2 separate regions of the Homo sapiens genome follow, and region 2 is linked to region 1. Evidence: fine-mapped expression QTL. A gene starts in region 1. The other region holds a variant in brackets. All regions are shown on one strand. Distances are between the middles of the regions. Region 1 holds the start of LINC02150 (long intergenic non-protein coding RNA 2150). Region 2 overlaps RETREG1 (reticulophagy regulator 1).

What was found. PIP is the estimated chance that this variant, and not a neighbour inherited with it, causes the effect.
Region 2: its variant is fine-mapped to the expression of LINC02150 in prefrontal cortex (GTEx, PIP above 0.99). The same link has a PIP of 0.9 or more in nucleus accumbens.

What each region holds. Positions count from the first base shown.
Region 1 is chr5:16,438,520-16,443,908 of GRCh38, reverse strand. It overlaps LINC02150 (long intergenic non-protein coding RNA 2150), which reads left to right and starts at 2,807. Exons shown (of 9, transcript NR_104625.1): 1 at 2,807-2,821; 2 at 3,828-4,023; 3 at 4,434-4,656.
Region 2 is chr5:16,484,442-16,489,830 of GRCh38, reverse strand. All of the region lies in intron 3 of RETREG1 (reticulophagy regulator 1), which reads left to right. Among named protein-coding and RNA genes, the nearest start is that of ZNF622, 21 kb to the right of the region's middle. The variant C/A (reference allele first, on the strand shown) is at 2,610.

The sequences.
Region 1 (5,389 bases):
ACAGGGAGAATGTCTTGGTTGAATTTTAAGTGTTCCTTAAGAAACAGTGTTTCTTCAAGTAAATCCCAGCCTGCTGTGGTAGAAGGAGCAGAGGCTGAGTAGCCAGAGACTGGGGTGCAACCCTAGTTCTGTGCATGGGAGTTCTTGACCTTCACTAAGTTCTCTCCATGTCAGGTTCCTTATCTTTAAAATGAGGCTCATTACCAATCCCTTCCAGGGTCATCCCAGGCTTTCCAAAAAATATGTGATAAGGTGCCTAACAGGTGCTGACACAAGAGGATGTCTGACCAAGTGTAGTTTTTATTTCAGATAGACTAATGATGGCCAGGGAGGAAGGAGAGGGGCCATGACCAACAAAAAGGGAAGGAGAAGAGAGCCACCAAGGACAGATCCACAGACTCCCAGCTAGAAGCCTTTCAAGCCAGGTGTTTAGAGACTCAGATGTTCGGACTTTTAGGAATTTATTGGGGTGCATATACTGTAGATACTGTCAGAGCTCCATAAGACTTGGAGGACCATCTGATAATCAAACACATTTATACTTCTAGAGAGGGACATATTCCACTCATACCGAGGCCTAGAAATAGCCTTCTCTCTGGCCAGATTTTGATGCCAAAGGATTTACAAAAAATATTTCAGTGTTCAGAACTCCGGGATTTGGGACTGTAGATGAGGAATTGTGGACCTTATTGGGCTTCTGTGCCAGCACCAAGCTAGGGATTGTGCCCACGCCCTTTCATTTCATCCTTTCAACTCCATGAGCAAGAAGCAGACATCTAAGGATCTAGAGAGATCTTTGCCTAGTATCTGCCTTGCAATCAACTTTAGAGGACCTCAGGGTTGGAGCAGTGGCTTCTGGCTTTCTGATTATGGCTGTTGCCTGCAATTTAAAGTCCTAATGTTCATTTTGTTTGAAGAGGGATGGAGGAGGAGTTAGACACATGGAATGTGTGTGTGTGTGTGTGTGTGTGTGTGTGTGTGTGTGTGTGTGTGTGTGTGTGTTTCAAGATGAACTCAATAGCATCAACAAATAATGAGGGTTCAGAAAGTTTATATTTAACTTGTTGAAAATCCACCTAGCTATGAGCCTAATTTCCTGAAGAATAAATGTAAGGTGAGATGATATGTTTTGGATACCAATAAGATCCAGTACCTGCTACGTTTATAGGGATAGAAATTGAACAAATGGCAACATTTCAAAATCTGCCAAAAAGAGCCCCAACTGATTGTTTTCATGTTTATAATCTCCAACTTACAGAATTTCACAGAGGAACAAGCCGTAAAGTTGCCTGAAGATAAGTCCTGGCTATGAATTAATGTTGAACAACATGAAAAGATTACAGGTACTTGGAAATAAACTTCTGAGGAACTCATCAGAATTTCAAATTATGCAAGTATTATGATAATACTTGAGAATCTCAAAATCATTTCAACTATCAATTTCTGTGGGATTTTATAATAATTTGCAGCTTCAATGACAAAATAATTTAAAATGATGTTTTCTAACTCTACCTACACAATTATTCTGACTTTATAGGAAATAAATTACATTTATTTGGACATCTGTACATGTCACACACATTAATAGGTATTTTGTTGATTCCAACTTAAATACTTACATATTTCAAAATTGTAACCTCTTTAAGTTTGTCACTGTCACAAACTTGGCTTCATGGTACTTCAAATGTCCTCTCCCCAGCCAAAAAGCAGAAAATGTTGTCTGTTAAAAGGCAGGGAAGTAGAAAAATAACTTTTTATAATACCTGTCTCCAGTTAAGTAGATATGGCTGCTCTAGTGAGTTGAGAGGACTTGATTTTTCTCCTTTCTCCTCCCCTCCCCTCCTCTCCCCTTCCCTTCTTCCTTCCTTACGTTCTTCCTTCCTTCTCTTCTTCCTTCCTTCCTTTATTCTTTCCTTCCTCTTTCTTGTTATTTTACCCTTCAAAAGTGGGTTTTAAAGTTTCTATATACAATAAATCACTGCTACTTTATTGCGTTTATCATCTAGAATTCCTTCAGGAACCACAATTACAATCGCAACAATTAGTTGAACCCAAGGCTTCTCCCAGGATTCCTGGTAACTAGGGTGTGTCAGTAAAGCTGGGCTCATGGATGCCTATCTGACACGCTTACTGTGGACATGAACTCAACCACTGCACATGCTTGTAGTGGATGCGGTGGTGTGCAGCCCCGATCTCCCCTCCAGGACTCAGGCACTCATTCGCCCAGCTGCCAGGAGTGCTGGCTTTTGTTGTCTCACAAATGAGTCTGTCTTTGGGAATCCCTCCCTTAGCAGAAGAGAGCTGCCCTGCCCAAGGCCCTACCCCTTCTGCAGTTGGGGTTTGGGGGGCAGCACGCATCCTGTGGCTGGCTGGCCCCTTGCCTTGTCTAGACAACTCTGACAGCAGTCCATGGGATTGCTGAAGGCCTTTACTGCAACAGAATCATAATTCAATTTCTCCCTCTATGGAATCCTTTTTCTCTTCTTTATGGGTATTGATCCTAAAAGCACTCCCCAGTAAAAGTCCTGCATGTATATCTCCACCTCAGACCCTATTTCTCAGGTAAGCATTCCTAAAACCACTGGTGCTAGGAATGGTCCGAGGAAGGAGACTCTAAAATGGAATCTGGAACTGGGTCACCAGCTGACCAGCCAGCAGGGAGGACACCATAACTAGGGGTGGGTGGGTGGATTACCTACAGCCCCTGGCAGGCTGTAACTATGCAATTGTTGCAACAGTCACTGTGATGTAACTGCTGGAAGGCAATGCATTGGTAAGTCTAGTATCCGAGATATCTAGGGGTCCAGGGGAAGTGGTAATTGTAAGTACAATAGAATTGGATGGCTGTTTCTGAGTGCTATAAAATGAATTAGAGAAAGGGGATGAAAGGATACAATGATTAATTACCAATTTAAGGCTAAGTGTGAAAGCCAGAGGGCCTATGGCAGTTTATAAAGAGCTTCTCATCTCCCGCAGCCAGAAGTAGAAAAAAGCCAGGATCAAGCCTAGAACTTAATTATAAGGCCAGGAGGGCTCCAGAGAAGGTTAAAATTTTCAATCCTAGTAAGTGTGCTATGCCAAGGTCAGGACCCTGACTAGGAAGGAGTGAGATGCTGAGACTTGGAATAAGGATATATGTGTTCCTGCACCAAAAATCTCGAATCTTCAGATTCCCCTCAACCGTCTGGGCCCACTGCTCCCTATTAAAAGCTAGTGCTACCCTTGCTTGAAGAGAGTGCAGGAGCTTTTTCTTGCAAGATAGCGTGTTCTTAAGTCAGGGTTGATCCCAACTCCATTCCTGGACACTAGGCCAGTAAATACAATGGGGATCAGCAACTGCAGTCTCCTGGCCAAATCCAGCCTGCAGTCTATTTTGGTAAATAAAGTTTTAGTTTAATACAACCACATCCATTCAACGACACATTGCCTATGGCTGCCTTCATGCTACAATGGGAGAACTGAGTAGTCACGACAAAGTCCATATGGCCCACAAAACCAAAAATGTTTACTATCGGGTTCTTTACAGGCAAAGTTTGCAGACCCTGAACTAGAGTCAAGTACAATAAAACTTGACAGGAGAAGTGCTGATTGTGATAAGGAAGGAAAAAATAGACACCAAAGAAGATGCAAGACTGAGCCAGCAAGTACTAGCAGGAGTGGAAGAATATATATGGGATGAATCCTGAAGGGCCTGGGTTAAGAAGGATGCAATATATAGTTGGATACTGGAAACTTTATCTATGTGGGAGCACTCCCCTGAGATAGAGAATTTAGCACTCTTCTTGGTTGACTCTTGGGGTATCTTTGTTGACTCTTTTCTTTCTTAGAAATGCAATGATCAACTATGTGGAGGAGATATGTGAGAAATGCCTTAGCAGATGATGAAGAAAGAGATCAAAAGGCTCCGAGAAGCAGGAATGCTACGGTGGATATGCAGTCAGCTCTCTGTATCTGTGGGTTCATTCAACCTCGGACTGAAAATATTCAGCATTTGGGAAAAAAGTGGCATCCCATACTCAACATGTACAGACATTTTTTTCCTTGTCATGATTCCCTAGTCAATACAGTATAGTGACTATTTACATAGCATTCACATGATATTAGATATTATAAGTAATCTAGAGGTGATTTAAAGTGTATGGGAGGGTGTGTGTAGGTTATATGTAAATCCTAGGCCATTTTATATCACAGACTTGAGTATCTATAGATTTTGGTATCCAAGGTAGGTTCTGGAACCAATCCTTTATGGATGCTGAGGGACAACTGTACACTGGTTCTCCCTATCCATGGTTTTGCTTTCCACAGTTTGGTTACCCCCAGTCAACTGTGGGCTGAAAATATTAAATAGAAGATTCCAGAAATCAATAATTTGTAAGATTTAAATTGCACATTGTTCTGAGTAGTGTGATGAAGTCTTGCACTGTCCCCCGCAGGATGTGAATTGTCCCTTTGTCCAGTGGATACACACTGTCAACACTTCCCTCCAGTTAGCCACTTCACCATCTCGGTGATCAGATGGACTGTCGAGGTATCGCAGTGCTTGTGTTCAAGGCACCCTCATTTTACCTAATAATGGCCCCAAAGCACAAGAGTGGTGATGCTGGTGATTCAAATATGCCAAAGGGAAGCCGTAAAGTGCTTCCTTTAAGTGAAAAGGTAAAAGTTCTTAAGGAAAAAAAATTATATGCTGAGGTTGCTAAGATCCATGGTAAGAACAAATTTTTTACCTGTGAAATTGTGAAGAAGGACAAATAAATTTATGCTAGTTTTGTGGTTATACCTCAAACTGCAAAAGTGCCACAGTGCATGTATAGGAAAAAACATCATATATATGGGGTTTGGTACTATTCGCGTTTTCAGGCATCCACCTGTGGGGTGGCCTTGGAATGTATTTCCCACAGATAATGGGGGCCTACTGTACTTTGTAAGACCGAACAATCTACCAGTTCACTGTATTTCACAGGGGCACCCAGAAGGCAACCTTTTACCAAAGCTGTAAGAAATGAGCTGGTGAGAGGGGCAATGTGTCAATGAGAAACTCAATGGTGGCTACCCCCTCTAGGGGAGGGCTGATACTGTATATTGTGCCGGGGTTCTATATAACTGGGATGGTTCTATATAACAGCAGTGGGCTTCTATATAACAGCAATGGGGATGGTAAGATCCCAGATTGATAGAGGCTGGGTGGTAGACTATAGGTAGCAGACCAAGAAGGATGCAATTATTATCATGAATGGAAAGGTTGGAGTGGCAGCCAGGAGTCCTCACCCAAAGAGAGCTGTGGAGATGGTTACTAGACCACAGTGTTATTAAGGGCAAGATACAGGGACACATAAGAATAATGCCAACACTTCACTGAAGAGTCATGGCCAATTTCCAGATCTGAGCC
Region 2 (5,389 bases), 46 kb before region 1:
ATTCATGTATCTCCAATAGCCCTAGATACAATTAAATGCCATTTTTTAAAGGTGAGTTTCATGTATCACCAGTGTGTGTAGGCTTTGCATCATTCTTGGGTCACATGTACACTTTAACTTATTGGTTACAGGCTGTGCCTTAGTCAACCCTCAGTCCCAGAGCCAGGAATGGTGACAGTTAATGTACATTCACTGCATATTTATTAAAACGAACAGAAGTTAAATGATAATGAGATAGTATTTCTTCTATGCCAAGATTCATTTTGTTGCAGCATTATTTTTTCTAGTGCTCAAAGATACTATTGGTGAAAGGGATGAAACAGGCTGCTAGCACATGTTCTGTCTTACAGAATTACAATCTATTTTTAAAGAGCACAAGAGTGTCCTATTTCTTAGTCTTACAGAACCCCCTAATGGAGAATACTGTGTGCTGCATTCTGAAACTGCCAGCCAAGTGCATTAGAAATTCCATTATGCAGGCATTAAACTACACAAAGACAAATCTTATAATATTTAAACATTGTTTTGATAACTATATTTTTTAAGGGAACAAAGGTACATGATAATTTAAAAGATACACATAAAAGTAAAATAAGTGAACTGCTTCACATCCCAGTTTGACTGAGTTATTTTGTTCATAACAAAACTCACCACTTTGTATCCTACAGTTGGCGGTTGAATCACTTAAAATCAGTTTGATCCTTTTAAGGTCTGCTTTTTTTTTTTTTTTTTTTTTTTTTTTTTTTTTGAGACAGAATCTCGCTCTGTTGCCCAGGCTGGAGTGCAGTGGCGCTATCTCGGCTCATTGCAGCCCCTGCCTCCTGGGTTCAAGTGATTCTCCTGCCTCAGCCTCCTGAGTAGCTGGGACTACAGGCGCATGCCACCAGGCCTGGCTAATTTTTGTACTTTTAGTAGCGATGGGGTTTCACCGTGTTGGGCAAGATGGTCTCGATCTCCTGATCTCATGATCTGCCCACCTCGGCCTCCCAAAGTGCTGGGATTATAGGCGTGAGCCACCACGCCCGGCCTAAGGTCTGCTTTTAAGACTTGTTAGGACCAGAGCCGCATTTAGTTTAGGACTGATTATTCTCTGCTACTGAGGCAAGACCCTTCTGAGTATTCTACCCATGTCTGTGAATTTTGAAGTTTTTCGGTCTAGTTGGTGGGACTAGGTGTCATTCTTGGCCAAAGACACTGTTCCTTCTAGTCCTTTCTGATGGCTCTTTCCTGGCCTCCGGGCTCCTCACACGCCTGTGCCAGCAAAGCCTCAGCTGAAGACTCCAGGAATCCCCCACATCAGACCTCTCCCTTTATCTCCCTCTGTACTGTGCTCTACTCTCTGGCACTGGGTCCTGCAAACTCTGGCCCCTTGGATCTCCTTTTTGGACCCTCAGCAATGTCTCCTCAACTCAGGGAGTTGCCAGGTGGTACCTGGGTTGCTGCCCCTGCTCCCAGGCCAGGAAACACTCAAGGCAGCGAGCTGGGTGATCACATAACTCCCTTATTGGTTTCTCATCCCTTAGGAGTCACTGTCCTTCCTTGCCTAATGCCCAGAGTTTTGAAAATCGTTGTTGCATAGATTTTCTTTGTTTCAGGTGGGTTGGGTATATCAGCTCCCTCTCACACCGTCTTGCCCAGAAGCAGAAGTCTCCCTCCTCTTTATTTGTAGGACAGGAATTCAGTGTTACTTTATCAAGGGTATTTCTCACAGTGACTCTTAAGGTAAGACACACCTGCCTCAGCATCATCTAGGACACCTGTTAAAATGCAGATTTCTGAGCCTCACCCAGGCCTGCTCCATCTCCATCTCTTCAGTAAGGCCCACACAGCTGCTGCTTAAACAGTGCCCTGGGTGTCTCACAACTACAGCTGCAGGAACTGCATGAAGGGCTTATTTGGCCAGACCTCCCAATGTATATGGTAAATTGTATTCTAATAGGGACAGGGAGGAAGAAAGAAGGGATGTTGGTTTGAAATTCTACTGAGAAGCCAAAGCTCCTTTCTGTGGACAAAGTGAGTTTGCTTATCTAAGGAGCCATCTTTCCATGTTTTATTCCCTTAGAGTTTCACTGGCAGGTAAAACCAGAAATTCTTCAGCTGCTGAAAAAGGACTTTGCCCTGGCTTAGGCTTCTTTGATAAAGAATTGCTTGATTGGAGAATGGCCTTCATCAAAACACCTGACTAGTTTTTCCGTAAGAAGGAAAACTTAACCAGATGGCATCTGCTGGGGCTTTTTTGGGAGTCATTTACAGTTACAGATCCTTGAGCAAAGCCCATTTGATAGATGGCATGGCCATGTAGAGGCTGGGGCTTGTAGTGACTTCTCCCTGGGAACTACTTGAACTGGACTGGCTACGAGGATGGAAAGTTGGGGATGATGGTCATCGGGGGTGACTCTTAAATGGTCTTTATCTTGTGGCTGGAGTGTGTGGTGAGTTCACTCCTTAGTGAAGGCAAGAGTGTGAGAGAAAGCTGGAAGGCTGGCGAGAGGGAGGGGAGATGGATAGAAAGATGAACCAAAGAACCTATTTCCTTTTGAACTTGGAAAGTGCATGGTCTCTCTGAAACTAAGGAGGAAATATTAATAAAGCTACTGGTAATGAATTTT[C/A]TCCCTTAGTTGAGCGTCAGTCACAGAAGACTTGTATTGTTTGTTTAGGAACTTAGTACAAACTCAAAATGTTTTGAAGCCTTAGGTATTTTCATTTCCTTTTATGTTAGTTGGGCCTTATGTTGCATGGTGATCAGTGCCAAGGATGGTGGGAAGACAGCTACACACCATGGAAAAGATCTGTTCCCCAAGCCTTGCCCAGCATTCACAGGAGATCTTTTTTCTAGTTATGTGTTTTCCAAATAAGGCTCTCTGGGAAAACCTAGAGTTTCATTACGTAGCAACTCAGCGTGTGTATGTGTGTGTGTGCAGATGACACCTGTGTTAAACATCAACCAACCACTAAGCGTAGATCTTGGTTTCTGCTGAGTATTTGGATTCTGCACATGAAGTGCTCTGTTTTCCTGGAAAGGGTTGGTCCTGCATGATGGCACGTTGGTATTGGTCAATCACACCTCATCTCTTCTGGTTCTAGGAAGGAGTGAGGAACATGAAATGCTCCTTCTCATTCTGAATTGCCATGTGGTCTCTTCAAAGAATATCATTGAATGTATTCACCCTTTGAAGAGGGCACACATTTTAAAGGATCAGAACTGTATTGGAAACCCAGAGTCCTGGCCTTGGGTCTTGGCTCTGCCTCATACTAGCTGCAAAAAGTTGGATTTCACGTTCCTCACCTATAAAATAAGGGAATTTGAAAAGTTGACATCAAATGTCCCGTCTCATGACAAATTATCTAATTCTGTATAACCTAAATTGAACTGTGGTGACATAAATTAATGGTAAACTCACTGGAAGACTATAGAAATGTGAGTTCCTATGGTACTCAGAATTAATCACTGGGCAATTTAAAACTATTGTTAAACTCCCAGGGAGCACCTGTTTTTGGTCCAGAAGAAAAGATGTGGAGTGACATCTTTTTTTCACCCTGGAACTTACATTTTCTTTTTAAATCATATATATTTCGATTAAATTTTATTCAGCCCAATCTGAACATTTATTTTTAATCTCAAACACTTATTACTCTTTACAAACCCATTTGGTTAGATATTATTTTCAGGTTGTACACAATGAATTTCTCATTTCTGTTTGTGATTATAACAATTCAAATATCAATTATAATTTATTGTGTTAATAAAAATGTAAGTAATGATGAAATTTATTGTCCCAAAAAACTATTATATGAAGCTTTTTAAAAGGGAAAAATGTAATATAATTAAGAGTGTTTTCTTATGACTATGGAAGATAGTCAAAGATTGCATATTTTTTTCTTTCTTTCCAGCAAATAGTGTTTATCTATAGACACAGAGGAATAGTGCTACCAGCATTCAAGTTTTTGATAACAGTATTTTCCACATTTAGTGTGATGCAAGACACAAAGGGGGAACTTAATAACTTTTTATTGAATAAATGAATAAATTAGTGGATAGATGGTGTCCACTTGAAGTCCCCTGTGGAAAATAGATAAGACCCTTCCTTAAATGCTAAAGAGAGTTTTTAGTTATTTCATAGTAATCTCTATAAAACACTTTAAGTTATATGAAGTCTTTGTTCTAACATTATCTCTATAGTGACAATTTAGTATTATACTAGGCTCTTTTACAATTTGGGGACATTTACTTAAGCAGTAATAAAAAATATGTAAACAAATATGGATATGGTGTCATTTCCAAGACATGAATCCTAAAGATGATATTAGAACAAAGTTCCAGCATCTGTACAAAGTACTATTCATTCAAAAAAATATTTTTTTGTCCTCGCGCAGTGGTTCATGCCTGTAATCCCAGCACTTTGGAAGGCCAAGGTGGGAGGATTGTTTGAGGCCAGGAGTTATGAACTGTTCATTTATTCCATCTTAATGTTTAAAAGAAAATAACAAATCCTTCCATTATAGCTTTTCATTGATTTTTGTTAGAATTATATTGGGCAAACAGTTCAAATGCATCCTTAAATAATTATTCAATATGCATAGAGAGCAGAAATTAAAATGTTTTCTGTCATCTTCATGGTCCCATTAAACTGAACAGTAGCTTAGCCTGTCTGTGCCAATTTGCAGCAAATCTATATTATTCTGAGAAAACAGACTGCATTTTAATAACCTTATATTTCCTTTGCCATATAGCTTTTGCTCTCTGGTGCAAAATCTTTTCCCACTAAGCAGATATCTGTGGCAAGATTTTGCCACAGATATCTGCTTCTTAGCTATGCACTTAGTATTTTAATAGATGTGGAATCATGGGGTATGCAAACCTGGTGCCAGATATGGTCCTGCTGAAAACAGATTTGCTCAGTGATTCAAGAGTGGGTAGAGTTAATGGATGCATAAACCATCCCCAAAAGTTCATTTCTTCTGACAGACAGGAAATCTACCTGCAGGAATAACATCAGCCTGGACAACTGGTAGCTCAGTGACTCTCCAGAGCATTAGTTGAGGCTGAAAGAACAAAGAGGAAGGAAAATGGTATACTTCCCCCCTTTTAAAATATGCTATTGCACTCATTTAAACTTGGATTAAAATTATTTTTATAAAAAGGAATTGTAATTTACAAATTGCCTTACTATTCAAAATATATTAAAAGTCACAGAATCTGTATGTACATAAACTTCTGTATAGTTGAGCATCTAAGGGCAAAGGTAGTTTTGATTTGTCTTAGGGCTACTGGAATTGAATCCAGAGATCAGCCTCACCCTGGTACCCTACCACAGCTCAGATGATAGTTCACTAACAATTCTAGTCTTCTTCTAGAAACTTTGCTGCTTTTGTTATTGCCATATCCATA